Linked DNA regions of Homo sapiens: region 1 is linked to region 2. Evidence: fine-mapped expression QTL. A gene starts in region 2. The other region holds a variant in brackets. All regions are shown on one strand. Distances are from middle to middle.

The links. PIP is the estimated chance that this variant, and not a neighbour inherited with it, causes the effect.
Region 1: its variant is fine-mapped to the expression of GOLGA7B in atrial appendage (GTEx, PIP 0.94). The same link has a PIP of 0.9 or more in left ventricle.

Annotation. Positions count from the first base shown.
Region 1 is chr10:97,811,271-97,827,402 of GRCh38, reverse strand. LOC107984260 (a long non-coding RNA gene) reads right to left here and starts at 5,506. Exons shown (of 3, transcript XR_001747563.2): 1 at 4,715-5,506. The variant C/T (reference allele first, on the strand shown) is at 6,300.
Region 2 is chr10:97,841,392-97,857,523 of GRCh38, reverse strand. GOLGA7B (golgin A7 family member B) reads right to left here and starts at 7,681. Exons shown (of 5, transcript NM_001010917.3): 1 at 7,209-7,681. The coding sequence starts at 7,220. It overlaps GOLGA7B-DT (GOLGA7B divergent transcript), which reads left to right and starts at 7,726. Exons shown (of 3, transcript NR_108035.1): 1 at 7,726-7,858. LOC107984260 (a long non-coding RNA gene) reads right to left here. Exons shown (of 3, transcript XR_001747563.2): 3 at 16,092-16,124. RefSeq lists an enhancer at 15,008-15,950.

The sequences.
Region 1 (16,132 bases), 30 kb after region 2:
TAGGCAACATGGTGAGACTCTATGTCTACAAAAAATTTTAAAAGACTAGCTGGGCATGGTGGCGCATACCTGTGGTCCCAGCTACTCAAGAAGCCAACCCAGGAGGATTGCTTGAACCCAGGAGGTTGAGGCTACAGTGAGCCATTATTGCACCATTGCACTCCAGCCTGGGTGACAGAACAGGACCTTGTCTGAAAAAAAAAAAAGTGACATGTGATTGAAGACCTGAAGGAGGCTAGATAGGGCAAGCCATACGGACACCTGGGGAGGAGCATTCCAGGTGCAGGAGCAGCAAGTGCAAAGGCCCTGAGGCAGGAGTACTCTGGCAAGTTCCAGGCATGGTGAAGAGGCCAGCAGCTAGAGCAGAGTGACAGGAAGGGAGCAGCATGGGAACACAGGGAGTATGCTAAGGGGCAAATCAAGTCAGGCAGGGCCTGAAGACTGTCACAAGGATTGTGGCTTTTCCCTTGCATGAAAGGGGAGTCCCTGGAGGCTTGTAAGCAAAGGAAGGATATTATCTGCCATATGTCTTAACAGAACTACTCTTGCTACTGTGTTGAGAACAGATGAAAGAAAACTGGGAAACCCAGTTATTATTATCACCATCACCATCACCATCACCATCACCATCACCAACTATAGCAGCAACAGCCAGTTACTGCCCCTGCACCAGGCTCACTGCCACCCACTTCACTGTTACTGTCTAGTTTACATCTCACAACAACCTGTACAGACAGACGGCCTTATTTCTCCCATTTTATAGCTGAGGAAACTGAGGCTTGGCCAAAGTCAGAAGGTCACACAGATACACGCCCTCCATAATCCAGCCCACGCTCTGGCTCCTCTGCCCAGCCTCGTCTCCCACACCTCCCTTCTCACCTGCACCCAGCCTCCCACCCCAGGGAGCTACTCCCAGTTTCCCCAACTCCACGCATCCTTCCAGGCCTCTGATTTTTTTCATATGCTGTTCCAGCTGCCTAGAACTCTTTTCTCCCATACCTAACTGGCATGTGAATTTCAACCCATCTTTTGAGAGACAACTCAAACTTTGCCCCTTTGGGGGACCCCTCCCTGATTGCCTCCAGCACAGCAGCTCATGGCCACCTCCCCAGAAATATGAGGCATTGCAACTACTGCGCAGCTGGCCTCCCACATACCATGTGAGCGCATGGCCGGGGGCTGGAGCTCATCAACCTCAGTTTCCCCAGCAATCAGTTTTGCAACCTGACAGGTCTCAGGCTCAAATCCTGCTGACACTCTGTTGGCCTAGGTGATTTTAAATTTCTCTGTTGCAATTTAATTCTGAGTCACACTTCCTTCATGCATGTCCATTTCTGTGCACGTACCCCTGACCTTGGACAGATACACGCAGAGCCTTGAGCTGATGGGTGCCATTGAGCTTCAGAAGAACGATGCTTGTAACAGAGGAGGAGGTGCACGATGCAGAGGGAGCCCTGTGCATTTTAGAATCAGCCAGACCTGAGTTCACATCCCGTTCTGCCTCTCACTGGCTGTGTGGCCATGAGCAAATCATTTAACATGGGCCTTCCTATCTTTGTCTATAAATGAGGCAAGTGATATCCACTCCCATGAGTTTTGTGAAATCTGGAAATTGTACAAATGCAATGCCTGGCCCTGAATGTGCCCTCAAGATGTGGCATTAATGTCTCCTTGCCTGTCCCGTCCCTAACCCCAGGAGTATCCTATACATTACACTTGTCCACCGTGCTCTTGGGAGGCCTCATGGGCCTCAAGGGCTAGTGTACTAAGCCAGAATCCCCCACTTCTGGCCCCAGTCCTCTCTCTGAGGCAGGGCCTATAGTTTCCTGGCAGTTTCCCCTGCCCTGGGACCTGGAACCCTGCCCCTGGCCGGCCCCACTGCCTGGAAGGTCCACGTGCTCACTCCTTCCCGCCCACCAACTGCCCTGCCTCCATTGCTACCAGGCCTTCCTGCCTGATTAGCCAGGACAGCCACACTTCCAGCAGACAGTGGGAAACAAGTAACTAAGGAGGGGAGATGCCACAGCAAGGAACAGGTCAGAACAACATTTGATGCCAGTCACTAGGCAAACACCCCAGATCCTGGTCACTCAAGGTATTGTAACATGCCAGGTCAGGGAGGATTTGAAGGTGCAACGCCCTCACTTTACAAATGAGAGGCCCAGAGGGGGTAAGACACTAGCTCAAAGTCACACAGCGAGACAGGAGGAGGCTTTGGACTTGCCCCTGGCCGCACTCTTCCTACTGCACCAGGCTCCCCCTCATCAGGGGCCACGTTTGTTTTTTGTTTTTTGTTTCTTTTTTCTCCAGATGGACTCTGGCTCTGTCACGCAGGCTGGAATGCAGTGGCACAATCTCGGCTCACTGCAACCTCCGCCTCTTGGGTTCAAGCAATTCTCGTTCCTCAGCCACCCATGTAGCTGGGATTACGAGTGTGCACCACCACACCTGCTAATTTTTGTATTTTTAGTAGAGATGGGGTTTTGCCATGTTGGCCAGGCTGGTCTTGAACTCCTGGCCTCAAGCAATCCTCCAGCCTCGGCCTCCCAAAGTGTTGGGATTACAGGCGTGAGCCACCGCACCCAGCCAGAGACTACTGTTGAACTGGACTGACCGCAGGAGCAAAGCAGCTTGTTGAAGGCCCTGTAGCTCTGTTTCCCTTGAAAGATATCAAAACCCTTTCAGCATCTTAATCCCCAAAGGCATGACACCTGACATCAGTCTCTTGAGTGGCCTGCAGGGAAGCCATTGTCCAAGCTGTGTGCAGCCACCAAATCCACTGACTAAGCTCTGAATCCGCAGTCTCCTGAGGTTGCCGTTTGTTCTCTGTCTATGGACTGCTACTACATGTGCAGCTGCACTGTGCTTGAAACCTCAACAGCGTATCTCAGGGGTGGGTAAGGGAGGCTGGGATAAATGGAGCCCCAGCCTCTGAAGGCCTGACGTGGAGGTTGTGCAGCTCATCCCTGGGGAGTCCTATCTAGTGGGGGCTCGGGGGGCGACTCGGGGATCTGTACCATAAGCAAACTCCTCCAGGGATTCTGATGTGCTGCCATGTTGGGGACCACCAGCCTAATCCAGCCCTTCCCTCATGGAGTCCCCTCCTCCACACCCTCACAGAAGACCACTCATCGGGGGACTGGGAGCTCATCACCTCACAGGTGGCAGTGCCCCAGCAGTGAGTACACAGGCTGTGCCACGCTGAAATCTGCGTCCAGAATCCTCGTCTGCCCTCTGTGGCTGACCAGTCAAATGTCTCTTCTTCCTCAGGAACAAAATCAGACCCTATTGCAGCCCTGTGTCCAACCGCTGGCCGCCCAGATACTGTTCCTGCCCGGGGGGCTCCTGGTGTCCCCTTAGGCCTGACAAGGGAGAGACTCTCCGTGTCCAGCACGCAGGCTCCATTTGCGGGTAACTGCTCCTCCTCCTGCCCCACCCACACACGCCCATCTGTGCCAGACACCGCCGAGCACCAGGACACAGTGTCCTCCCCAGCCTGAGACCAGAGCAGGCCTGATCAGGAACACGCAGGACCCTGCCTTCTCTGCCCAGTGGCCTCTTGCTCCTGGTGCCATCGTGTCTACTTGAGATATTTCCAAATAGAGAATATAGAAACAATGAGCATTCCTCCCAAGAAACCGGGCTTGAAATCAGAACACCTGGGTCCTCCCAGGGCCCCCATCACTTCCAGCTATGGGACCTTGAGCGAGTCCCAGGGCCCATCTGGTGAATGGGGCTGCTGAGGGAAATTCAGACAAGCATCAGAGCCCACCGTGCCCTTCCCTCTCGGTGTCAGGTGTTTTCTGCCTTTGCCTGAGCCGTGGCCACACTCCCTTGCTAATCCTTCAGACGACTGACACGTATACAGCTGTTGCCCTGGCCTGAGACCCTGATGTGGCCTGACCGGCATGGGCCCCTACCCAATGCACTAACTAGCAGCAAATGAGCCTTATTAAAAAATATTTGAGGCCGGGCATGGTGGCTCATGCCTGTAATCCCAGCACTTTGGGAGGCCGAGGTGGGTACATCACTTGAGGTCAGGAATTCGAGACCTGCATGGCCAACGTGGCAAAGCCCTATTTTTACTAAAACAAAAAAAAAATACAAAAATTAGCCAGACGTGGTGGCGTGCGACTGTAATGCCAGCTACTTGAGAGGCTGAGGCAGGAGAATCACTTGAACCCGGGAGGCAGAGGTGGCAGTGAGCTGAGATCGTGCCACTGCACTCCAGCCTGGGCAACAGAGCAAGACTCTGTCTCAAGAAAAAAAGAAAAGAAAAAAGGCCAGGTGCAGTGGCTCTCACCTATTTATAATCCCAGCACTTTGGGAGGCTGAGGAGGGAGAATTTCTTGAAGCCAGGAGTTTGAGACCAGCCTAGGCAACACAGGGAGACCACATCTCTACAAAAACTTTTAAAATTAGACGGCTGTAATGGTGTGCGCCTGTAGTCCCAGCTACTCAGGGGGCTGGGATGAAAGGATTGCTTGAGCCTGGGAGGTTGAGGCTGCAGTGAGCCAAGATCGCACCACTGCACTGCAGCCTTGGCAACAGAGCAAGACTATCTCTAAATAAAAAAAATTTTTTTTTAATAATTGCATAGAGCTGCCTAGCACAGTGCAGGGACATGAGGGTTCAGTAAATATTTGTGGTATCTAATTTAGGAACACCAACCTGTACCCACCAAGGAGAATAAAAAATATACCTTAGTACTCACCTAGTTCAACCTTTTCATTTTACCAATGAGGGTTCCCAGAGAAGGGAAGTGACTCATCCCAGGTTTCCCAGCAACTTTAGTCCATAGTGGCTCAGTTTGCCCAGCCAGAAATCCCCAATGCTCCCATCGAAGGTTGTGGCGCTGACAACATCACAGCTGAGAGGAGGACTCCATGGTGCCCAGAACCCCCGCAGCGCCATTCACCAGAGGTGGACAACACTCCCTCCCGGCATCCCCCTGGGCCTGGCTTCTGACCAGAACCCTGCCCTGGACATCTCAAAAGCCCTCAGGACCTCGGTGCTGCCACCTGCTCACAGAGTGTGGCGGGTACGGGGGTGGACAGCCCACGTCCCTCTGCCAGGTTATTTATAAAGTGTTTTCAGATGAGTCAGGCACGGAGCTGCCCAGCACCACCAGGGACTACCCCCTAGAAATGCTAGAATGATCCTGAGCTCTGGAACCCCACCCCACCCCTTCATAGCCTGCTTCTCATGGAAAGCTAGAGGCAGGAAGGTGAGGCCAGGGCTCTGGGGCTGTTGTGATGCCCCCCGTGAGCCCGGGCAGGCCAGGCTTGGGAGACAGATGGGGAGGCCCCAGGAAGGAGAAGAAGGGCCTCGGACAGGCCCCCTCCGGGCCACAGACCACATGCCCCTTCCCCTTCCCCCTCCCAAACAAGAATGACGGGACAAGCCCAAGAAGACAACCCCCACCCTGTGCCCCAGGCGCTGGCTGCTCGCACCTCCATTCCTGTGTGTACTGCTCTCCGCCTCCGCCAGGAGCCCAGCTATTTCTATCTCTATGGAAAGGGAGCCCAAGCCTCCAAGCCTCCTGCCCCCCTTTCCTGCTCCTGGCAGTGCTCTAATTAACTCCTCAGCTGGATGCCGCCTGCCATGGGTACTCTGGCCAGGGCTGCCATGAATAACTGCACCTGCGCTCACACCCAGCTTCCCACAGAGGCTGGGCCCAGTGCCCCTGCAGAGAGTGTGACCACTGGGAGCCTGGTCCTGGGGGCCTGGACTCCCCCGGCTATGCACTCTCCTTTGGGAGCCTGAGCTGAGGGCATATGGGGGTCTTTGGGACCCACCCTCTCCTCTGCAGCCTCCACCACAACCCTGCAGGGGCTACTTGCTGGTTCAGCAATCCTGCTGTGTGCCTGGCATGGGGCTCAGACCTGAGCAGGGAAGGAGTCGGGAGGGCAAGGAGATGAATAAGCCTGTCCTCCCTCAAGGGAGGCAAACACATAAACAACTCATTATGCAATGAGAAGGAATGAAGTTAGTGCTAAATTAAGGTACAAGCTGGGCACCAAGACTGCAGGCCCTCAATTCTTCCCCACTTTTTTTTCTTATTATAAAAGCAATTCATACTCATTTTACAAAGAATTTATATATGCAGATAACAAAAAGAAAATTATAATACATTCTTTATCCATCCACTCAAGGACAACTTTGTCCATACCTGTGGCCCAGACTTCCAAACTTTTTTTAACAGAGCAAGGACAGGTCACAGATCTGAGGGTCTCTCCTCCAGGGACCACCCGCCTGGCTCTGGGACAGTCTTTCCAACTTGAAATTCACAAGAAATG[C/T]ATAGAAAGATTTCAAAGCAAATAATATGGATAGTATGACAAGTTCATGTAAAAAGAAAAATCCCAAAACTCTATCAATGCCTGGAAAATGTCTGGAAAGATACTTACTAAAGGGTCAACATTTATCAGCTAGGGGGAAAGTGATGGAGGAGCAGATAGACTTTTTTCTGCTAGAAATGTCTTTGAATTGTTACAATAAGCATGGATTTATATAAACTTTATGATTTTTTAAAATGAAAACTTTTTTAAAAAAATTGCTCAAGGCATAATTTCCAAATTTTCTATGGCGTTGTCTTATCTTTGCACTTAGAATAATATAATATGAAAACTAAAAGGAGGTACAGCCACTGTGGAGAGCAGTTTGGCAGTTTCTGCAAAAGGTAAACAGAATTTCCGTATGACCCACCAACTCCACGCATTTGGATATGCTCGAAATGACTGAAAACAGGGACTCCCCTTGTTCACAAATGTTCATCACAGCACTATCCACAGTAACCGAAAGGTAGAAACAACTCAATGTCCATCAACGGCTGAATGGATAAACAAATCGTGTTATGTACATGCAATAGAATATTACTCAGCTATTAAAAAGAAATAAAGTGCTGACACTTGCTATAACATGGATGAAACTTAAAACATTACGCCAAGGGAAGGAAGCCAGACATAAAAGGCCACAGAGTCTATGATTCCTTTGAAATGAAATGAACACAATAGGTAAATCCATAAAGGGAGAAAGCAGATGAGTGGTTACCAGAGGCTGGGGGGAGGGAGAGAATGAGGAGTGATTACTTAATGGGCACAGGGTGTTTTTCTGGAGTGACGAAAAATTTTGAAACTAGTGGTTTTGAAACTGGTGGTTGTACAACATTGGGAATATACTAAATGCCACTGAATTGTATAATTTTTATTTATTTATTTATTTATTTATTGAGACAGGGTCTCACTCTGTTGCCCAGACCAGAGTGCAGTGGGGTGATCTCGGCTCACTGCAACCTCTGCCTCCCAGGCTCAAGCCATCCTCCCATCTCAGCCTCCCACCCCCAGCTCCCACACCACCACACCCAGCTAATTCTTCTACTTTTTGTAGAGACAGGGTTTCACCACGTTGCCCAGGCTAGTTTCAAACTCCTAGACTCAAGTGATCCTCCCACCTTGGCCTCCCAAAGTGCTGGGATTAGAGGTGTGGACCACCACACCCAGACTGAATTGTACACTTTAACACGGTTCCTTGTATGTTATGTGAATTTTATCTAAAAAAAAAAAAAAAAACAAACAAACAAACAAAAAAAACCACAATGAAACATTAAAAATAATAAAAACAAAAACAAAAGCAAAAAGCTTAGTCTCACTCAACTTTCATGCCCCCCAACCCCTGACCACCTGGCCTTCGAGGGTCTTGAAGGAAAAATCTTCAACCTGCCCACTGGCAGGGCCAAGCCACTTGGCTCCCAGAAGGCCTTGGAGAGGCAGGGGCAGTCCAAGGGAGAAAAGTACCCCCAAGTAAGAGAGGGGAGAGGAGCGCAGAGGCAGGAGCTGGGCCAGGCAGACAGAAGAGGGAAAGCAGCCATCCTGCACCAGGCACCACACTCCCGAGGAACCCTCGGATATCCCTGAGAGGTCAGAACTGCTATCCCATTCTTCAGATGAGAAAACCAAGGTTCAGTGTGGCTTGGAGGCAGGGCTGGGACCTCCTGACTCCAAGGAGGAGAGGCAGGGGAACCTGGCATAGCCCCAGGTTGTTTTCTATTTGTTCCATCTATTTTTTTCCCCTTTTCTGCCTTCTTTTGGACTATTTTTGATTATTCCATTTTATCTTCTTTATTGGCTTAGCAGCTGTAACTCTGCTATTTTAGCAGTTGCTTTAGTGTTTATAGTACACATCTTGACCTTTTCACAATTTACCTTCAAGTGATGTTGTGCCACTTCACATCGAGTATAAGAACCTTACATTTACAGAATTTACTTCCATTTCTCCCCACCTGGCCCGAGTTCCCCCTCTCTGGGTTGTGGCCGAAAACACTCTCCAGGTAGTAAGCAGAGACAACCATAGAGCTCTGTGGGACCCCTGAATCTTGTAGCCTAATGTCTAGTGTCTTGAAAACCATTATTTCATATGTTCTGTCTGTTTTTTAAAAATTGTTTCAGGCAGGAGTATAAATCCAGTCCCTGCTACCCTGTCTTGGCCAGAAGCAGAAGCCCCCAACATGCATAGGAGGAAACCAGGACTCAGAGGCTAATCCCCTCACCCAAGGTGAGGGAGCCCATAAGTGGACAGGCAGGAATCCAACCAGCCCTGGTGCTCTCTTCCCTGGCCCACTGCTCCTGCATGAACCAACTGAGAATGCAGAAACCACTCTCAGTAGGAGAAAGTGAACTTTTGTCACCACAGCAAAAAGCTGCTCACAGCATTGTTACTGCTTTGGAAGCCAGTGGGACAATTCTTTTGCATAAAGTTACCCATTAAAGAGCAACTTTCAGCATCTTCCAAGCCTCACCTTAAATGCTCTCTCTTTGCATCTACAGAAGCCTCTGTGGCATATTCCCCACGGTGTTTGCTGTCTAGCAGGATGCATAGGTCTGCTGAGAATGTAGGATCAGCCCCCTATAAAAGTACTCTGTAACCTATAATATGCTGTAACAGATGGAATTGTCTCCCCACTTACCCTCCCATGAGTATTTTCTGGCTCAATCTAATCACCTAGGTGGTGGAATTGCGGTAACTCTGAGTGTGTGTATGTGTGCATACGTGTGTGTGTGTGTGTGTGTGTGTGTGTGTGTGTGTGTGAGAGAATTTGGAGGCAAGGAGGAGGCCCGTTTTTATCACACTAGTCAACTCACTTTACGTTCAGGGATCTATTTGTCTTTAAGCAGAGGGAGAGGTATTTTTCCTTAAAATCACTTGAGGCAGCTGGCTGAGGCCAGATTCCGACAGAATCTGATGGGGGACGGGGCCTAAAATAGCCTTCAGCTCCTCCCCACCCTCTATCTTGCAGGCAGAGAGGAGTCGGGGCCCAGTTCTTTCCCAAGCCCTCTCCTCCACCAGCTGACCCCAGAAATACTTTATTTAGAAAATCAATCTGAAAGCAACAGGAAGGACTTTCATTCCTACCAGCACCTTGTCACACATCAATTTCATTTAAGGCTCTACAATTCCACAGCTGTGAGGCGCAGGCAAAGTCCTTAGCCTGGCCAAGACTCAAGCTCCTCATCTGTAAACTCCCAGGACTGACCGTTAAGTGGCAAACATGATGCATGTGGCACAGATTGGGAGCTTGAATCTTAGGCTTCTTTCCGTCCTCCTCATAGTCCATTCACCTTGTTGAATGTTGACAACAGCATTCAGCTATTGGTGTTACCAGCAAAAGTGTTACCCAGGCCGGGCACGGTGGCTCACTCCTGTTATCCCAGCATTTTGGGGGGTCAAGGCGGGCAGATCACCTGAGCTCAGGAGTTCGAGACCAGCCTGGCCAACATGGTGAAAACCCGTCTCTACTAAAAATACAAAAATTAGCCAGGCGTGGTGGTGAGCACCTGTAATCCCAGCTACTCGAGAGGCTGAGGCAGGAGAAACACTTGAACCTGGGAGACGGAGGTTGCAGTGAGCCAAGACTATGCCACTGTACAATCGGAATGAGTGAGACACCATCTCAAAGAAAAAAAAAAACAGCATTACCCTTAGAAGTCTGTGTCCTGCTTGTCGGTCTGTTGCTTCCAACTAAAACAGATGGAAGGAAAACCCATAAACAACACCCTCCCTGCTCCATCCAGATCAGAGGTTTTCAAAGTTTGCTGCCCATTAGAATCCCCTGGGGAGTTTTAAAAATCCCAACACCAGCTGCACCCCAGATTCATTAAATCCAAATCTCTGGGGATGGGGTCCTGGCATCAGGAAATGTTAAAGCTTCCCGGGGGCTTCCTGTGTGCAGCTGGGGTTGAGAAGCCATGGTCTGGTGTGAGAGGTCCTGAATGCTCTGCCTGCCCCACCCTCTCCTTCACCTGCAATCCCAGCACATCCCTCGGGCTCCCTGAGTGCAGTAACCAGGATGCAGGACCAGACAAGTTTGGGAGAGTGGGACATTTAGGGAGCCCGCATTCTCAAGTTCTGGCAGGAGTGGGTGGGGAGTGGGCCCTTCACCACCCTGAGAATGAGGGCCTCCCATATTTTGCTCCCCAGGAACCTCATTATTAAGGAAATGCTCTCTTGCTGGGCCACTTCAAGAACCTGAGCATAAGCGCCTCCTTACGTACGCCCTGGCCACCACGAGGGTGCCTCCCTACCCCTGCCCCTCCTTACCTACAAAGGGCCATGATTCCAGCCCCCTGGCCAGAGCCCAGCAACTGTCAGGCCACCTGGCTGAGAGGCAAGCACACCCATCAAAGGGAAGAGGAGACAAGGTGTCCCTTACCAGCCAGCCAGCCACCATCCCATTTCTCACAGCTGGCCCACTGCCTGGGTGGCAGTTCAAAGATTCTGGAAAATGAAAAGACTTGGCAAGGCCAAGCATGACCTTTCCTCCAGGTGCAGGAGCCAGAAGGCTGGAGAAGATGATTCTCATGCCCTCAGCTTGGTGGGGGCCCCAGCTGTGCCTGGAAGCAGGGTGTCCAAAACAAGACTCCATCAGGGGACTAGAAGGAGGAGTTGGGTCCCCAGTCTTGCCCTAGAAAACACAGTTTGTGTCAGACCCATGGCCTGCTAAGCCCCGGCCTCCTTTTCTCATACTTGAGTGAGCAGGGCATCACCTGGGGACCTTCCCTCCAGGCTCTGCTGCAGTGGGGCTGCATTTTGAACCAACACCCCCAGGTGATCCTAATCCAGGTAGTCCATACTTTGAGAACCACTACCCTGGGCCTTGGTGGGATAATATCTCAGCATCTTGCTCTCCTGCCCATTCCCCCTCCCCCACACTATCATCCTCTCCAGAGAGCATCTGCCGAGAAGAGCATCACCCTCAAGAGGAAGAGCCTGAGTAGGTTTGGACAGGCACCCTCCAACCGGTGACCAAGCCTCACTGCCTCTCCTGTGAGGCCTTCACCAACTCTTCCCATCCATTCAAATTAGCAGAGATATCTACATTTCTGTAGTAGCAGAAATGTACATACCTAGGCCAGCAGGTATGAGGCCAGAGGGATGGTAGGTACTGTAGCAAACTGGAGAAAGCGTGCCGTGCCCACTCCTACCTGCTGCTGTGTAGCAGGCTGGGGTTGCCAGATCTCCTGATTTGTCAGGAGAAGTCAGGAATCTAGTTTTTATAGGCAATTTCCAGGTTTTTAAACTATGGGAGCCAAAGCCAGCACATCCAAGGTCCCAATCTGGCCTGTGGGCCACCCGTTAGCAGCCTGTCTAGGAAGTGGGCCCGCGGGATGAGAGGCCCTGCCTGTGGGCATCCTCACACAGTTGGCGTTAGCACATTGCCTGCCTGCATCCCCGGGGTCCCAGGAAATACCCCTGACATGAACAAGTGAGTGAACACATGGTGTTGGCAGGCAGGCGAAAGGGATATTTTTGTAGGGAAGGGCGACTTCCCACCATACCACACCTAAGGTCAGCCTTGTCAGCAGGGGTGGGGTCTGTCCTCCGTCATTCTCAGTAGAGGGCCAAGCTAATGCCTAATTCACCACCCCACACTTAACTGCCACTTCTAACATTGTGGGTGTTCTGTGAGCACCCCCCATTGTGCAGACCTCTCTTGGGTCTGTAGCTTTATCCACTCCTTCTCTAAAGCCCCCCAGCTTGGCCTGACTTCAGGCCACTTCTCAGAAACCTTTGCCCAGGGCACCCCATCCCCAGCCCATTCCCAGCTCCTCCAAGCCCTGCAATGCAAGAGCCAGCAAAGCCACAGAGCCGCCCCTGGGAGCAAAGGCCTGGTCTCGGTGCCCGCAGGAATATCCCAGGACACACCCTGCCAAGGGAGGTACATCTGAGGCTTCTGCCACCTCAGGAGATGACAGTAGACAGTCACCAGTGATGTGCCAGGAGGGAGGAGCCCAGCCCATCAGAAGAAGGGCTGAGAGGCTGCTTAAAACTGATCAGAAAAAGACGTGAAAGTCCTAAGGGAACAATGTAAAGCACATGGTATATAATACCCGCCCCATGTGAAGTTCAATGGCAGCTGCTGCATGTGAGCACAAGCTGGGTTGATGGGGGAAGCGGGTGGGGGCATGGGGAACCCTCTGGAGTGATGGAAACCATCCATATCCTGATTAGAGCGGTGCTTGCACTGATGTACAAATATAGAAAAAATACATCAACTGTACAGCACATGTAAAGATTGGTGGACTTGGCCGGACACAGTGGCTCATGTCTGTAATCCCAGCACTTTGGGAGGCTGAGGTGGGTGGATCATTTGAGGTCAGGAGTTTGAGACCAGCCTGGCCAACACGGTGAAACCCCATCTCTACTAAAAATACAGAAATTAGCCAGGCATGGTGGCGCATGCCTGTAATCCCTGCTACTCGGGAGGCTGAGGCAGGAGAATTTCTTGAACCTGGGAGGCGGAGGTTGCAGTGAGCTAAGATTGCACCACTGCACTTCAGCCTAGGTGACAGAGAGAGACTCCATCTGAAAAAAAAAAAAAGAATTTGTAGACTTTACTGTATGTAAATTTTACCTCAATAATAAAAGAAAAGAAAATAGCAATGGACAAAAGGAAGAGAAAAGCTCCCCACATATACCTACAAACCCAAGAAGCTGGAGACCTCCTTACCTGCTCCTTGGGGAAGTTTAAAGAGAGGCACAAAAGCCAATGAGGTATAAGAACCTTGCTCCCAAATAAGCCACGGTCCTGATTTCTAACAAAGTGAGCCAGCCAGCGGGTGGCCAAGTTCAACTGCAAATACATAACTGAAAATCTGCTCACAGTAGAAGCCTTGAAGGCAGGAGGTAACACCACATTTAGAGTCCTCCAGCCTTCTCCCATAAAGCCACAGAGCATCCTCACAGCAACCCTGAAGCAGCAAATCATGTCTCCTATTCAGAGGGACATAAATAGAGGCCCAGGGAAGTTCAAGGACTTGCCCCAGGTCACACTGTCAGTGCTAGGACTCAAACCTGGGCTCCCAAGTCTGTGCCCTTCCTTCTACCTGCAGAAGAAAGCGTGCCCCTCCTAGGCCACCCTGCATTCGAAAGCAATGCGAATGCGCGGAACTGTCTATAAAAATGGCCAATTACTAGGGATAGTCATTTTACCCAAACTTGATTTGGGGAATAATTTTGTGGTGGGGGGCTAATGATCAGCCTTTTCTTCAGAACAATCTCTGTTCGCAGAGACAGTAGTCTTTGAGATGTGCCGGGGTGAGAGCTGTCTCTATCTCAGTCATTTGTCACCTACAGACTGGCACAGAACGCAATTCTGTGAGATTTGACGAAAGAGGACATGTCTTCCCTATGACAGATTTCAAAACAAAGTACGAAGAGGGCCTCAATAGCTACAAAGAGGGTCTGACAAAGAAGGGGGCATTCTCCTGAGGCTCTTCAGGCAGGCCAGGGGTGGGCCTGAGAAGTTGAGGGTGACATGGGAAATTAGAAAGACTGGTGGGCACCGTTAGTGCCTACCCTAAAGTCACTGCCTTCTCTTTATTGCTACAGACTCTGATATTTGTTCCAGCCTCAGAAGATGAATCATGATTGGGCTAAACAAACAAAGTAATCTCATTTGCTTTTCCCTGATTCTTACTTTTCCATTTTCCCTTGCCGTCAAGATACAGTTCCAGCCAGTGAAAAATAAAGACAAATCTGAGGGAGGGCTTCTTGCTTCCTGATAAAAGAGATAGACATTTAATGGAAGAAACTGTCCCTTTCTTCTCCTTCTTGCCTTGAATGTGGTTGAGTGAGGGCACGATGGCTGAAGCTGTGGCAGCCATCTTGCCATCAAAAGGTAACAAGCTTGTCCAGGCACTGTGGCTCATGCCTGTAATCCCAGCACTTTGGGAGGCCGAGGTGGGCGGATCACCTGAGCTCAGAAGTTCAAGACCAGCCTGACCAACATTGCAAAACCCCGTCTCTACTAAAAATACAAAAATTAGCTGGGTGTGGTGGTGTACATCTGCGGTCTCAGCTACTCAGGAGGCTGAGGCAGAAGAATCGCTTGAACCTGGGAGGTGGAGGTTGCAGTGAGCAGAGATCGCCCCATTGCACTCCAGCCTGGGTAACAAGAGCGAAACTCGATCTCAAAAAAAAAAAAAAGTAACAAACTGAAGAAAAGCAAACACAGTGAGGATGACTAAGCAGAGAGATGGAAAGAGCGTGGATCCTTTCAACATTTTTTATCTGCTCATCAACTCTGGATCAGACTTCTCAGATAATTCAGTGTCATCGTGGTTTAAGCCACTGTCCATGGGGTCTTCTGTTACCTGCATCCTATCCGACTCAAAGGGCAGAGGCAGACAGATACAGGCTGCAGGATTCAAGTCACATGAATGAGAGCAGGTTGAAGAAGCAGGGGCCGGCTGGTTGAAGACCTGGAGGGTGGCAAGAGACAGAGTTCTGCAGCTTCACCAGGTCAGGGAGAGTATTCTCATCATTTCCCAGGCTATCCAGCCTGCCAACAGAAGGCTGGACATGCTACACGGGCCCACTGCTCTGGTGGTATTCCAGATGTCTCTCATCGGCGATTACCTGAAGCTGCCATACAAAGAACTGTTGCCCTTTATAGCCACAGAGTTACATGGACCTGGGTTTTTAACATACTGTAACCTTGGACAGAGGAGAAAAGCTAATCTGTGAGGCAATGTGATCTCTTTTCAATTCAGTGCAATACAAAAAAAATAGCTAGATGCTTTGCAGCTGCATCCCATGCATTAATGAATAGGGCAGCCACTCTTTGTATTCTTTCCTGATGGTAAATTATCTTAAACTTTTTATATTATAATGACTTGTTCAAGTCAGGAAGTGCTGCAAAATCCACATGAATTAAAGATCAGACACAAGGCTTTAGACACCCTTCTCACTCGTAGCTGACTTGAATGGTGTTCACACGCCTCTGTCTCCAGGGGTGCTCTCAGGCAGAAGCTGGAGAAGCACCAATCCACAGCCACCTGTGAGCCAACTTATCAGCAAGGAGGTTCCACCCTCAGAGCATCAAACTGGGGCGGGTCAAAAAGGGTAGCTCAAGATCTTCAAGACCAGGGAGCCCAAATTCATGGCTAGAAAAAAGACACAATTCTAGGGACCAATTTAGGTTCAATAGGAAGCCTGAAGTCTGGGTACCAGGTCAGAGCTGAGCCCTGACGTCCAGAACCACATAGAACAAGAGCATAGCACAAGCAAGAAGAAGTAGAAGCATCCTGGAGGAAGATCTTTGCTAAAGAGTTTCTTCATGCCCACCTGAGCCTGCACCTGCAGCGGGAGGAAAGTGCTTCAGCTGGTTCGGGACAGGTGGCAGGATTGAGGCTGCAGCCAGGGTCCTCACAGTGGTTCATGTCTCCAGAGTAATCATCACAATGGCTTTCATTTGAGAGTTTGCCATGTACCAAGCACCATGCTCAATGGCTTTTCAAATCCTCACAAAGCCCCATGATTTAGCCCCTAGTATTATCCCCACTTGACAGATGAGGAAACTGGGGCCAAGAGAGGTTAAGTCCGTTTCCCAAGGCTTCACTGCCAGTAAGCGGTAGAGGCAGGTTTCAAAGCCCAAGTTCTAGGCTAGGTGTGGTGGCTCACATCCCAGCACTTTGGGATGCCAAGGTGGGCAGATCACTTGAGGTCAGGAGTTCAAGACCAGTCTGGCCAACCTGGTGAAACCCCCTCTCTACTAAACATATAAAAATTAGCCAGGTGTGGTGGCGTGCACTTGTGGTCCCAGCTACTCAGGAGGCTGAGGCAGGAGAATCGCTCA
Region 2 (16,132 bases):
GTTGATTCTTCCAATCCTTTAGCATGGGATGTCTTTCCATTTGTCTGTGTTATCTACGATTTCTTTCATCAGTGTTTTGTAGTTCTCCTCATAGAGATCTTTCATTTCCTTGGTTAAATGTGTGTGTGTGTGTGTGTGTGTGTGTGTGTGTGTGTGTGTGTCTGGCTATTGTAAATGGGATGGGGAAAGGACTCCCTATTCAATGAATGGTGCTGGGAAAACTGGCTGACCATGTGCAAAAGAATAAACTGGACCCCTAGTTCTCACCATATACAAAAATTAATTCAACATGGATTAAAGACTGAAATTTAAGACATGAAACTGTAAAAATTCTAGACGAAAACCTAGGAAAAACTCTTCTGGATATTGGCCTAGGCAAATAATTTATGATGAAGTCCCCAAAAGCAAATGGAACAAAAACAAAAATAGACAAATGGGACTTAATTAAACTAAAAAGTTCTGCACAGCAAAAGAAATAATCAACAAAGTATACAGACAACCTACAGAAAGGGAGAAAATATTTGCAAATTATGCCTTTGACAGAAGACTAATATCCAGAATCTATGAGGAACTCAAACAATTCAACAAGAAAAAAAACAACCCCATTAAAAACTGGGCAAAGGACATGAACAGACATTTCTGAAAAGAAGAAATACATGCTGCCAATAAACGCATGAAAAATGATCAACATCAATAAGCATCAGAGAAATGCAAATTAAAACCACAGTGAGACATCATGCTACACCAATCAGAATAGCTATTATTAAAAAAACAACAGATGCTGGCATAGATGCAGAGAACAGGGAACACTTATACTCTGTGGGTGGAAATGTAAATTAGTTCAACCTCTATGGAAAACAGTATGAAGATTTCTTAAATAACTAAAAAGAGAACTACCATTCAACCCAGCAATCCCACTACAGGGTATCCTCCCAAAGGAAAATAAATCATTATGTTAAAAAGACACCTGTACTCATATGTTCATCATAGCACTATTCACAATAGCAAAGTCATAGAACCAACTTCAGAGTAACAACCATCAACACTTGACTGGATAAAGAAAATGTGGTATATATACACCATGGAATACTACACAGCCATACAAAATAATAAAGTCATATCTTTTGCAGCAACATGAGTGGAGCTGGAGGCCATTATCCTTAGTGAACTAACTTAGAAACAGAAAACCAAATACCACAAAACACACTTTCTCACTTATAAATCTAAGCTAAACAAGAGGTACACATGGATATGAAGATGAAAATAATAGACACTGGGGATTCCAAAAGAGGGGAGGGGGTGAGGGTTAAAAAATTACCCATCGGGTACAATGTTCACTACTTGGGTGATGGGTACACTAGAAGCCCAATCTCCACCAATATGCAATATACCCATGTAACAAACATGCACATGTACTCCCTGAATCTAAAATAAAATAAAATTTAAAAACAAACAAAAATCTTGGGAAATAATAAATAACTAGGAAAGGTTATCAATAAAGTAGAAGGAGCAGATAATTGGTAGATCAAGGTCCTGAAAAGGTGGGAATCCAAAAACACTATATGTGACTTTCCTAAATCCAGGTGGACCTTGCTGTATGTACGAAATGTGATCTCAAAGTATTGTGACTGGATTAAATAATGTATAAGCCCTCCTGTAGGCTTATATGAGTTGATTCCTCTAATCAAGGTTTTCATTGAGGAAATCCCCTTGATATCTACTAGGAACCTATGATAACTCGGAGAAATAAGGAATGCTTTGGTAATATAAATAAGTTAATTGTTAACATGTCTGCTCTGGTTAAGGTTTTATAATGTTGTATTTTCAAGAGTAAAGAACAAGGCTATGGCCTTCCTCTGCCCCTCTAAAACCAACTTATGAAAGTCAGTCAATCTTGAGGATGGACTCCCCTACCCCTAGAAGGCTCATTCTAGCAGTTTTGTGGGAAGTGGACAAGACTGGGGTGAGGGGCCAGTTGGAGGGATGATTCTCTTTCTAATAGTCCATGGAAAAAACTAAAGAGGTGGTGAGAAAAGCAGTGGTGAGAATGGAAAGAAAGGGAAGAAACCATTCTGATATGGACTCAGCTTCCTGTCCTCTGACCCATACAAAACCTGCTGTTTTGGTTACTATAGCCTTGTAGTATAATTTGACGTCAGGCAATGTGATGCCTCTGGATTTGTTCTTTGCATAGGATTGCTTTGGCTATTCAGGTTCTCTTTTGGTTCCATGTGAACTTTAGCATTGTTTTTTCTTTTTTTAGCATTGTTTTTTCCAATACTGTGAAAAACGATGTTGCTAATTTGATAGGGATTGTGTTAAATCTGTGCCTGAATGCACACATGTGTACACACATATTTGTGTGCTGTCCTGAAGGCGTGTGTCTCTAGCGACTGGCTAGCTACTGACCCAAGCCATTTCTTCTTCCTCCTAGGCATACAGCTATATTAATTCCCAGCCTCCCTTGCAGTTAGGTGTGTCCCTATGACTGAGTAGAATGTGAGAGGAAGTGACGAATGCCATGTGTAGGCTTGATTCATAAAGATGTACCATTTCTCCCTGCTCTTTCCCCTTTCATGGAGGCTGGTGGAGCCCTGTGTTGAAGATAGTGACACCACAAGTTGGGAAGAGCCTTGGTCCCTGAATCACTGAATCACTGCCTTGAATCACCGCCTGGAATACCTGTTGATCAGGAACACTTACCTGGAACTTCACTGAGCAGGATACAAACTTCTATTGTATTAAGCTATTAATACATTAAGATTTGGGGGTGCTACCTTACATAATAAATTCCCATTTCCTCTTGGCTTTGATCCACAGGTTCTCAAGTAGCCAGAGTAGGATAAGTCAACACCCTTTTCAGCACCAACAATATCCTGAGCCTTAGACTACTATCCAGGCTCTGGGTGACCAGAGATCTGCTTCTCTCCCTGGAGAGTGTTTGTGGAGGAGCAACTCTGAGGAGTTGCTAAAGGATGATATCAGACACATTTTATATGGCAGAGCCTTAGTCTCCCAGACCTACATAGAGTACATATATTACAGACTCATCTGAAGTTGGTGAAGAGCCGGATTTAAGGCAAGGCAGGGTCTCCTGGTTTTCTCCATTCATGGTGGCTTGAGTGTGAAGTGCCAGGAAGCCCTAGTGGAAAGATGGCCCACTGACCTGGGGGCAGGAGACCTGACCCTGGGCCACATGGCCCTGGGAAAGTCTTCCCTTCTCTGCACCTCCATTTCTTCAACTGGAAACTAAGAAACTGGAACTACATCATTGCTCAAGCCCCTTTCATCTCTGACATTCTAGAGGCTTTATCAGGGATTATGAATGCAAATGTTTACAGGGGCTGAGCAATAAGTGGGCCAGGTGGGGCCTGGGGCTAATTAGAAAACTGGTGCCCCATCTCAAGGAGACAGATGACTATTGCCACGTGGGAATGTATACCCAGGTTGCCAGCACTTCTGGTGTCTCAAAAGAAGCCAGAAATCTAGATCTTTTTAACATCAAATATTCTGATTTTTGAATATTTCCAATACATTTTTAAAATGTATAAGCACTCAACAGACTAAGTAAGGCACACCCATGGACCAGACTCATTTCTAGAGCTGCTAGTTTAAGACCTCTAAATAAAGAATCCCATGGCTGGGGCCCCTTGGGCAAGAGCTAAGCCAGGCTCCAGGCCACTGGCCAGCTACTAAGTTTTCAGAAAGCTGGTGGGGTTTTCAGCAGAGATCCGTGATGCTCTGAAATCCTACCAGAGGATATCAAAATATGTGCACAACTCTCTCTGAAGCTGCAGTTTCTGTGTTTCCCCTGGGTGTCTCCCAGGGGGTTCTTAACTGACCCAGAGACCTGAGCCTCTCTCCACTTCTCACCTTCCTCAACCCTGCCCCTCTCTCCCATTGCCACCCCTGGCTCACTGGCAGCAGAGTGAAGACAGGGCCGAGAAGCATTTCATAAGGAAGAAAATCAGTGGTGAGACCCATGGGTACCAATTTTCAAACTGCAGTATGAGAAGGAGGGGGAGTCTGCCTGGAGAGTGGGTACCACAGGTCACACATTTGGCTCCTGTTCACCTGACAGTCAACTAGCTGGGGTGCAGAGGAACAAGCTCTAGAGTGCAAATGAGCTCCTGGTCCAGTCTGCCCAAGTCCAACAGGAGTGCCCCCCTGGCGCCATCTTCATCCTCATTAAAAACCATCTCATTCCATAGGATGCATGTGAGGCATCGAGAATTAGGAGGTTCCGCTGATGCCAGCACTCTGCTTCCTGGCTGGGGTGTGAAGGAGGAGTGAGGATCATGAGTCACAGACAGCCAGGTCAGGCCTAAGGATAAAACACCAGCCACAAGACCTCCCTTCTTCTCAGCCTGTACCAGTGCTCAAGCCTGACCCAGTTGTCTACTCATCATTAATTCCATGCCTCAAAGATCAAACCTCCAAACACCCTGCTTGAATAACGCTACTTGGATGCATTTAAAAATCTCTTAGAGACCAAACCCCACCACTTGGAGAAGCCCCTCCCAGCCAGGCACTTCCCAGTTGTCCTTGGCCATCTGGACTATTTCCCAGGGCAGACCCTGCTCCCAGTGACACACATTCACAGAGGTTTGCTGCTCAGAAAATGGGCTCATTGCAGCTCTCCAAATGAGGTCAGTGTATCACTCAGGAGGCTCCATCCCTCCTCTGAGTTCCTTACAGACACCTCTCCCCTAATGCTAACTCCTAAACAGAAATTAGGGAACAGAAAAGACCCAGTTTCCACCCATGAATTTCTTCCCTCTCCCTCACCCCTCCCTCTCTGTCCCTCTCCCCACCCCCTTCCTCTCCCTCTCTCCTTCTCTCAATACAGCTTCTCCTAGAGCTGAGGAGTTCCTATTGAGAATCCTAACAGAATAATCATGGGAACTTAAAGCGATGTTTTCCCTCTCCCAACAAGTTTATCCTGGTAATCTCAACTCAATTCTAACAGTAAAAACAGCCTTGGGAGAATGACTCACCCCACAACCCAGAATACGTGCAGGTCCTGTGCCCTGGCAGAGCTAAGGCTTCCTGCCTCAGTTCTGCCATCAGAGTCCACCCAAGGCCAAATTGTGAAGTGAGGAATGTTTGTCCTCAGCTCCCCATCACTCCGGGACTTTCCTCTGTCCCTCTGCCCTCAAACCAACCCAGCCAGGCCAAGCAGGGGGCCTGAGTCCCCACACTCCAGCCCTTCATGACTTCCTTTGCATCCCTCTCTCCACCAAAGCTTCACATCAAGACCTGGAGGGCCCTCCTCTCTATCAGGTGACACAATAGGCTAATTGGATGCAGGAAAAAAAAGCACTGGCCAAAGAGGCAGAAGACTCAAGTTCTTATCCCATCCCTGCCACCTTTTAGCCATATTTTCCTGAATAAGTCTCAGCACTTCAGTTCCATCATCTGTAAAATGGGATAATGATGCCTTCTTTGGCTCCTTCACAGGGACCAGGCAAGTTTCTGAACCTTAGTTGTCTCATCTGTTAATTGGGCATAATAACACCATCCTTACCCACTTCATAGGGCTGCTCTGAGGCTTGAAAGAGATCACTTATGCGATAGTGCTTTGTACACAGGAAAGCGCAATATTTTCAGAGGCGTTATGAGCAGAGCCCCTCCCAGGGGAGAGTCACACATGTCTCATAGCAGCCTCCTGGAAACGCTGTCTTGACATAGAGATAGAAGCCTGCTGGTTGGAATCTGTGGGCCATGGCAGACATCCTGGGACAGATGGGCCTGTTGGAATCTGTCAGATCACATCGCAGAGGCAGCTGCCTTCTCTGCCCACGCTGCTGGCCCAGCCATGCCCATGTAGCTGAAGTTCCCCTTTTCTGTCCAACACAGCAGCCTCTGCTGCAGTCTGGCAGCCCTATCTGGAAGGTAACCAACTCCTTGGTTTCTCCCTTTGTTCTTCCTGCTGTCCTCCATGTCTTTGGTGCTTTGTGAGTACTCTGCATTCCTCTACTCTAGAAACCAAGCTCCCAGGGTCTGCCCAGGGCTTGCCCTCACACCAAGTCCTGAGGGGCAACTCTCCGCCTAGCTAACCTTGTGCCTTGTCAGAATGCCAAGCAATGCCAAGCAACAGCACCTTGTTCTGTGGTGGAAACTTGAGTGGAATAACAACAGCCACACTTGGTATTAATGTCACACTGCTCACCAGGATGCCCAGAAGCACTGCATTGAATCATTCACAGGCCTCTGCTCTCCCCCAGTGTATGCCAGCTGGATTGGAAATGGGGAGACACCACAAAGGAAGTCAACATCAGAACTGGGGAGACCCTGATGTCCTGAGTTTCGCTCCAAAAATTCAAAGGCAAAAACTTTCCGCTCTGCTGCTGACATGCTGTGTGGAGTAGCAAATTAGTCCTTTCGTTTTCCACACATCACCTTTATCATGTATAAAGTGGGAACATAAAGAGCCCAATCTCCCTCCTGAAATGAGGGGGGAAAGGGCAATCCCTAGGGGTAGAGGGGGGAATCCTCGACCTCAAGCATTATACCAAGATTCTGCCCTTAGCTAACAGGCCCCGTGGTTCAGCCTTCAAGTGCTTGAAGGTGACACACCTATCAGTGCACCTTGAAGAAGGCAGAAACTCCCATCAGATGGAGGGGAAATCTGGACACCCTGGGACAAAAAAAAAAAAAAAACTCGAATGGGGTAAAAAAGCAAGAAGGGTGATATGCAAAAGTGGAGACCAACCATTTGGGTTCTCAGCCTGAGGATGTCTTTGTCCCCTCCCTCCCGCAAAGGAAATGCGGATGTAGAGGTAAGTCTGTCATCCCTTAGCCAAGCTTTTGGGTTCAGAAGCTGACTGCATAGCAACAGCGGACAGCCGCCTTCCCTCCCCTCACACACGCACACACACGCGTCTCCAACCCTCTAGGAAAGCGGTTTCAGGACTTGTGAAGTCCAGGGAAGGGGAAACCCCAGCCTGGGGCCCTGAAGCAACCCTGGCGCTAATGCCAACAAGTGTCGCGGACAGCTTGGGGGCTCAGGTGGGGCGAGGGGAAGATTGACACGCAAGGGGGAGATGAGCCCTCACTAAGCCCCTACCTCCTCCCTCCAGACCTGACCTGGGGAATCACCCCATCCCACCCCCAACTCCCGCCTCCCACTCCTGCCCAGCCCACCCCTAGGGCATTTGGTCCCGCGGCAATCGGGCACTGCCTGCGGGTGGGGCGCTCGCCCCTACCTCGGTGGCCATGATCCGGGGGCGCTCGGAGGCTGTCGCGGGGCCGGGCGAGGGGGGTCTCCGCGGTGCTGACCCCGGGAGCAGGTGGGCGGCGGCGGTGGCGGCGAGCTGGGGCCCGGGGCGCTGTCCGCAGTGCTGATGCGGGCGCCGCGGGCCCGGGCTCAGGTGGGCCGGGGGCGGGCGGGCGGCTGGGTCCAGGCAAGGGGCGCGGCGCTGTCCGCTGTGCTGAGGCAGGCGCCGGGCCCGGGAGGCGAGGCCGCGCCCGAGGCTCCTCACGGCCCGATCGCCCGCTGCCGCGGCTCCTGCAGGCAACGGCCGGGTTTAGCTTTGGCGGCGGCGGCGGCGGGGATGGGGGCGGCCGGGGGAGGAGGGGCCAGGAGCCGCCGCTGGCCGGGAGGGGGAAGCCGCGGCCCCCAGACTCCGGCGCCGCCGGAGAGGAGCCCCGCCCGGGCCACAGGCTCGGCTACCGCCCCGCGCGAGGCCCCGCCTCCCCTTCCTGCCCTCCCCCTCGTGAGAGCCCCGGAGCTCTGCGCTCGCTTCCGTGGCCCCCGGGACATCCAGCCTGAAGGACAGTGGGGCAGGAATTTTTCCGGGGCAAGACGCTTCAGCCTGCAAGGCTGACCGCTCCCGAGCCGCTCGCAGGCCCGCAGGTGAGGCCTCTCTACCTTTCCAGCCACCCCCAGTGCCCCGGCTCTACCCCTCCCTCGCCCCGCCCCCAGCTTCCTCTTTAGAATAATTTCTTTTCTTTCTCTCCCTTTTCCTCTCTGTGTGCCCCCCCCCCATATACACACAGTCAGGCTTGCACGGACGGCCCCTCTTTTCCCCTCTCCTTTGCACTTCCTGGAACCCCACTAGCTAGACAAAGATCCTGCCGACCGCAGAGAATCATTTCCTTTCTTTAAATACGTGCCCACATTTCGTTCTCAGCCATAGCCTGGGGTCCCTTCTTTCAGGCAGCTCCAGAATTGAAGCCAGTCTCTCCTTGCTGCTCTTCCTGGACCTGGTCCCCACCCTTTACTCTTCCCTCTCTCCTCTGCAACCCGAGTTTACATACACGCACCACCACTACCACCACCACTCAAAAACCACAAGCAGATGGTGCCAAACCGGTATGCTCACTCTCCAAGGATGGCAGGTCTGGCTCTGGTGCCACCTTCGCACTTTTGACATCATAAATTCCAACTAAATGATCTATTTGTTTAATAAAAAGGAGACCAGGTGCAGTGGCTCACACCTGTAATCCCAACACTTTGGGAGGCTGAGGTGGGAGGATTGCTTGAGCCCAGGAGTTCAAGACCAGCCTGGGCAAGACCCTGTCTGCACAAAAAATGAAAACATTAGCCGGGCGTTGTGATGTGTGCCTGTGGTCCCAGCTACTCAGAAGGCTAAGGCAGGAGAATCACTTGAATCCAAGAGTTCAAGGCTGCAGCTAGCCATGATTGTGCCACTGTACTCCAGCCTGGGCAATAGAGCAAGAGCCTGTCTCTTAAAAAAATAAAAATAAGGCCGGAAGCAGTGGCTCATACCTGTAATCCCAGCACTTTGGGAGGCCGAGACGGGTGGATCACCTGAGGGCAGAAGTTCAAGACCAGCCTGGCCAACATGCTGAAACCCCATCTCCACCAAAAATACAAAAAAAAATTAGCCAGGCATGGTGGCACCCGCCTGTAGTCCCAGGTACTCAGGAGGCTGAAGCAGGAGAATTGCTTGAACCCGGGAGGCAAAGGTTACAGTGAACTGAGATCACACCATTGCACTCCAGCCTGGGCGACAAGAGCGAAACTCTGTCTCAAAAAATAAATAAATAAATAAATAAATAAAATAGACATAAAAAAAAGGAAACACCAACACAAGTGCCTTTTTACATACCCATAATACCCCTTGGTCTCTTTGAGGGGTGGTGGGGTGTGCTCCTCTGCAGCTCACTGCTGCCTGAGAGTCTGAAGCCCACACACAGGGAGAACCTGGCGGCCAAGAGACCTGGCCCAGGCTTTTCCAGCTGTATAACCTCGAGCAACTGTCTTGTTTTCTGAGCTTATGGTTCTCTTTCTGTAAAATGTGAGTGTTGGATTTCACTAGACTGTTTCTAGGACCTTTTGTTTTTTCTCCAACCTTTTATTTTGACATTTTTAAACATACCAAAATGTTGAAAGAATAGTACAATAAACTATGCCATCTACCTAGCTCCAACAATTGCTTTTTGCCACATTTGCTTTATTGATAGATATGAAAACAGAGCTATATTTGCCTAGATTATCAGAAGGTGACAGATATCGTGGCCGGGCGCGGTGGCTCACGCCTGTAATCCCAGTACTTTGGGAGGCCGAGGTGGGCGGATCATGAGGTCAGGAGATTGAGACCATCCTGGCTAATACGGTGAAACCCCGTCTCCACTAAAAAATACAGAAAAATTAGCCGGGCGTGGTGGTGGGCACCTGGGGAGCTACTCCCCAGCTACTGGGGAGGCTGAGGCAGGAGAATGGCATGAACCCAGGAGGCAGAGCTTGCAGTGAGCCGAGATTGCGCCACTGCACTCCAGCCTGGGTGACAGAGCGAGACTCCGTCTCAAAAATAATAATAATAATAATAATAATAAGGTGACAGACATCGTGAGGTTTTATCTGTAAGTACTTCAATGAGATTTTATCTGTAAGTACTTCAATTCACCATGCATCTCCCAAGAAGAAAAGCGTTATCCCAACTAGGCACAACACCATTCTCATGCTTTATTTTATTTTATTTTATTGAGATAGGGTCTTGCTCTATCACCCAGGCTGGAATGCAGTGGCACCATCTCAGCTCACTACAACCTCTGCCTCCTGGGTTCAAGTGATTTTCAGCCTCCCAAGTAGCTGGGATTACAGGCACGCACCACCATACCCAGCTAATTTTTGTATTTTAAGTAGAGACAGGGTTTCACCATGTTGGCCAGGCTGGTCTCAAACTCCTGAGCTCAGGTGATCCGCCCACCTCAGTCTCCCAAAATGCCAGGATTACAGGCATGAGCCACCGCACCCAGCCAATTATCATGCTTTTAAAATGCCCATATTATCTAATATTCTAGAACAGTTTGTCACCCCTAAAACACATTAATAGCGATGACCCCTCAAAAATTTTCCCAGAACTTTTCATTTTTAGTAGCTAACATTTAGTGAGCACTTACCATGTGCCAGCCCATATGCTACACACTTTACATGTATGATCTTACGTAATCCTCACAATTACTCTTTGAGTTGTGTTCTTGTGATCTTTTTATTATTCCCACTTTATAAATGAGGGAACTGAGTAAGTTGCCCAAGGTCATAGGGTTTGTGGGGAATGGAGACAGGATTCAGACATGGGCAGTCAAGCTCCAGAGCCTGTGTGGTTGATCCTCCTAACTGTATTGCCTCCCTCCAGCATCTGGTAGACCATAGACTAGCAGAGCAATGACCACATCTCCAGCTGCCTATTTTGCAGATGAAAACGCTGAGTCCCAGAGTGTAAGTGACATGCTAAAGAAGTTAAAGGCGGGTGTCTCATTCTACCTTATAGTTTGGCATAGGATTTGGCATAAAGGACCAAACAGAATATCTATGAATCCTGCAGTGGTCACTGGTAATAAAAGAACACATAATCTGATGATCTCCATGTAAATTTCACAGTTCCTCCCACTTGATTTTTATCACATCAATTAGACAACCTTCTGGAAACCATTCTCTTCACCTGATGACTAGATATCTGGATGAGGCCATTCAACAAATCCATTCATCAACATCTATTTGTTGAACACCTACTGTGTATCAGGCACTCTTCTAGGAAATTGGGATACAGTCGTGACTAAAAATGCAAAGCCTCTGTCCTTATTGAACTTATATAGTAATGGGGGTAACAATCCATGACATAAGCAAATATGTGTAAAATATGTCAAGTTTTGATCACTGCTAGGAAGAAAAGTGTGATCACTGCTAGGAAGAAGATATGGTAAGGAGATAGTGATAGAGAGGGCTTATTTTCGAAAGAATAGTCAGGGAATACTTTTTTTGATAAGGTGAAATTTGGGTAGAGCCCTGAAGGAAGAGAGAGAACTAGACATATAGATACCTGGAGGAAGAGTGACAAGGCAGAGAGGACAGAATCCAAGGGCCCTGACGCAGGACTGGGCTTGGTATGTTCAAAGAATAGCAGGAGGCTGGGCGCAGTGGCTCACACCTATATCCCAGCACTTTGGGAGTCCAAGGCAGGTGGATCACTTGAGGACAGGAGTTCAAGAACAGACTGGCCAACATGGCAAAAGCCCATCTCTACTAAAAATACAAAAATTAGCCAGGTATGGTGGTGGCTGCCTGTAATCCCAGCTACTTGGGAGGGTGAAGCTGGAAAATCACTTGAACCTGGTAGGCGGAGGTTGCAGTGAGCCGAGATTACACCACTGCACTCCATCCTGGGTGACAGTGTGAGACTCCGTCCCCAAAAATAATAATAATAAAAACAAAGAATAGCTGGAAGACCAGTGTAGCTAGACCTGAGGTGAACAAGGGGAAGAGAGTTGGGAGTTGAGCTCAGAGAGGTAGCAGGAATCAGGTCTTCCAGGGTTTTGTAGGCCCTGATAAAGACTTCAGATTCTACTCATAAAGTAAGATGGCAAGCCTAAGAAGGTTTAGCGTAGGGGTGTGACATCATCTAATTGCAGTTTTTGAAAGATTCCACTGGATGTCAGAGGGGAGGCAAGGCTAGAAGCTGCAAAACCAATTAGGAGACTGTTAGAGCAGCCCAGGCTTAGAAGATGTGGTGGTGGCTTAGAATTTGGTAGTAGCAGTAGAGGTGGGAAAAAGTGGCTAGATTCTAGATATAATTTGAAAGTAATGCTGAGAGGATCTTCTGATGGATTGGATGTGTGGTATAAAGAAGGCAGGCCGGGCATGGTGGCTCATGTCTGTAATCCCAGCACTTCGGGAGGCCAAGGCAGGTGGATCACTTGAGATGAGATCAGGTGTTCAAGACCAGCCTGACCAACATGGCAAAACCCTGACTCTACTAAAAATACAAAAATTAGCCAGGCATGGTGGCACACACCTGTAGACCCAGCTACTCAGGAGACTGAGGGAGGAGAATCACTTGAACCCAGGACGTGGAGGTTGCAGTGAGCCGAGATTGTGCCACTACACTCCAGCCTGGACAGAGAAAGACTCTGTCTCAAAATAAATAAATAAATAAGAGATCGTCAAAGATGAGTCTAAGTCTTGAGATCTGAGCCATCAGAAGAAAGGAGTGGCCATCTACTGAGAGGGGAAGACTAGGGACTGAGCAGGCCTGAAGGGATAGAGAACACAGCATTTTGGTTGTGTTTTGTTCACTTAGGTTTGAAGTTTGATGTGCATGTTATAAGCAAATTATAAGGGAGGATGAGGAGTTGGAGATATAACTTCAGGACCCTTCAGTATGTGGATAGCATTTAAAACCATGGGACTAGAGACATCATCGAGCGAGTAGGCATAGCTAGAAAAGCTGTCCAAGAACTGATTCAGGACACTTGGTCACTGACAGGCTGGAAGACAAAAGACTGAGAAGAGGGGCCAGTGAAGTAGGAGGAGATTCAAGAGAGGGCGGTGTCCTGGAGCCAAGCAAAGAAGGCTGGAAAGAGAGCCTTGCCTGCCATGTTGAATGCTGCTCACAGGTGGAATAAGATGAGGACTGAGGAATGACTACTGGACTTGGCAGCAAGAAGGTTCGCCAGTGACCTTGACAAGAGCCATTTTAGTGGTGCAGGGATAAGATCCTGATTAAAGTGGGTTTGAGAGTTAGCATGGAGGAGAGAGAGGAGAGGTACTGAGAGTGTAGACAATTCTTTCTCCTGCAAAGGGAAGCAAAGACTAGCATGGGGGTCTGAGAGAGACATGGAAGCAAGGGAGTTTCCTTTCAAGAGGGAAGACATTAGGGCATGTTTGTCTGCTGACAGGAATCATCTAGTAGAGAGGGAAACACTGATGATTCAGAAAAGAGAGGGTTAATTGCAGGAGCAAGCCCTTAACAGGCCAGCAGAGAATGGGACACAGGGCAAACAGAGAGGGGATGGCTCAGGAGAGGAGCACAGACAATTTCCCACAGAGGCGAAAGAAACACAGTGGACTGGATTAAGAAAATGTGGCACATATACACCATGGAATACTATGCAGCCATAAAAAATGATGAGTTCATGTCCTTTGTAGGGACATGGATGAAATTGGAAATTATCATTCTCAGTAAACTATCACAAGAACAAAAAACCAAACACCGCATATTCTCACTCATAGGTGGGAATTGAACAATGAGAACACATGAACACAGGAAGGGGAACATCACACTCTGGGGATTGTTGTGGGGTGGGGGGAGGGGGGAGGGATAGCATTGGGAGATATACCTAATGCTAGATGACGAGTTAGTGGGTACAGCGCACCAGCATGTCACATGTATACATATGTCACTAACCTGCACATTGTGCACATGTACCCTAAAACTTAAAGTATAACAATAAAAAAAAACACAGTAAATGGCCACAGATGGGAGCTGGTTAGGAGGTTTTGTCACATAAAGAAAAACCTGAGCTCCACTCCTGCTCCCCTTCAACTAGCCAACGGCTTTTCACACATCATTCAACCATTACCTCTAGAAAGCTTGGTCCATCATTCAGCCAGTACCTATAGAAAGCTTGCTCCGTGCCAAGCATGGAGCTGGCACTTAGCCCAGAGAGAGTTCTCCCCATTGACGTCACAGGACTAGAGTCTATAGAGAGCTTTGAGATCACTCATGCAAGGACAAATGATCCCTTTTAATATCTAGCTCCTCTGGTGGGAAAGAGGCTTTCACAGCCTCACCCTATTTCCCCTACATTGCCTCCAGGGTTGTAACAATCTCAACAGACCTCAAGTCTTAGAGGCCTCAAAGTGGAAGCCACAGAGAGAGACCCACATTCAGAGTGGGCAGCATTCCATGTTGGGCTGACTCAAGGCTGTGATGAGATGCTAGAGGATGGGATGTTCCCAAATGCAGTCATCTGGACTTTAACTCCTATATTTGAGGCAGAGAGCTCTTTGAGATTTAATCTGACTAATCATTATTATCCAGCTGCCTTGGGACAACCTAGTCCTATGCAAGAGCCTAGCTCTTTGATGTTTTTTATCATAAATTAATGAGTTCACCCACAAAATAACATCAAAGAAGATCCACTAACATTCAGTGTTATCATCCTCCAATCTGCGGCTGCATTGGAAAGCCTCCCCATAAAGGACCACAGCCGGAAAAAGAAACCAACTGAAAGATTTGGAAATCATAATAGCTGGAAAGAGATGAGAGAAAAACGAACTCTTGCAGACGGCAGAGAAGCCAGGGAAAGAGCTAGCAAACCTCAGGGAGATGAAGAAAAAGCAGGGGAGACGAGGAAATTCTCAGCACTTGGGTCTGGATGGAAAACAATTGCATGAATGCTTGAGGGGGAAATTGTGGTCTGGAAAGCCTTAAACAATGTCATCTCATGGCACATTGCGGAGACTACTAGGAAGTATGTGGTAGGAAACGGCATCCCTGGAGTCAGATGACATAGGTTTCAACCTCTGGCTCTCCTATTTACTATGTAATCATTAGCAAGTCTCAATCTCTCTGAGCCTCTGATTTCTGATCTGTAAAATGGTGGCAATAATTCTCCCTTCCCAGATAGAATTCATCCAAATATTAGAGGCTTTCTTTTTTTTTTATGGTTATGAAAACAAATTTATTGTTAAAATTACTATTTTTAAAATTCTGTTCTACTGTGAGTTTTAACATTTCTGTTCCCATTAAAACATTTTTTTAAAAAAAGTTAGTTTTAGATTGCAATTTGGCTTAATTTTATTTTATTTATTTATTTTTTTTTTTAATTGATCATTCTTGGGTGTTTCTCGCAGAGGGGGATTTGGCAGGGTCATAGGACAATAGTAGAGGGAAGGTCAGCAGATAAACAACTGAACAAAGGTCTCTGGTTTTCCTAGGCAGAGTGTTTGTGTCCCTGGGTACTTGAGATTAGGGAGTGGTGATGACTCTTAACGAGCATGCTGCCTTCAAGCATCTGTTAAACAAAGCACATCTTGCACCGCCCTTAATCCATTTAACCCTGAGTGGACACAGCACATGTTTCAGAGAGCACAGGGTTGGGGGTAAGGTCATAGATCAACAGGATCCCAAGGCAGAAGAATTTTTCTTAGTACAGAACAAAATGAAAAGTCTCCCATGTCTACTTCTTTCTACACAGACACAGCAACCATCCGATTTCTCAATCTTTTCCCCACCTTTCCCCCTTTTCTATTCCACAAAACCGCCATTGCCATCATGGCCCGTTCTCAATGAGCTACTGGGCACACCTCCCAGACGGGGTGGCGGCCGGGCAGAGGGGCTCCTCACTTCCCAGTAGGGGCGGCCGGGCAGAGGCGCCCCTCACCTCCCGGACGGGGCGGCTGGCCGGGCGGGGGGCTGACCCCCCCCACCTCCCTCCCGGACGGGGCGGCTGGCCTGGCGGGGGCTGACCCCCACCTCCCTCCCGGAAGGGGTGTGGGCGGAGACGCTCCTCACTTCCCAGACGGGGTGTCAGCCGGGCGGAGGGGCTCCTCACTTCTCAGACGGGGCAGCTGCCGGGCGGAGGGGCTCCTCACTTCTCAGACGGGGCAGTTGCCAGGCGGAGGGTCTCCTCACTTCTCAGACGGGGCGGCCGGGCAGAGACGCTCCTCACTTCCTAGATGGGATGGCGGCCGGGAAGAGGCGCTCCTCACTTCCTAGGTGGGATGGCGGCCGGGCAGAGAGGCTCCTCACTTTCCAGACTGGGCAGCCAGGCAGAGGGGCTCCTCACATCCCAGACGATGGGCGGCCAGGCAGAGACGCTCCTCACTTCCCAGACGGAGTGGCGGCCGGGCAGAGGCTGCAATCTCGGCACTGTGGGG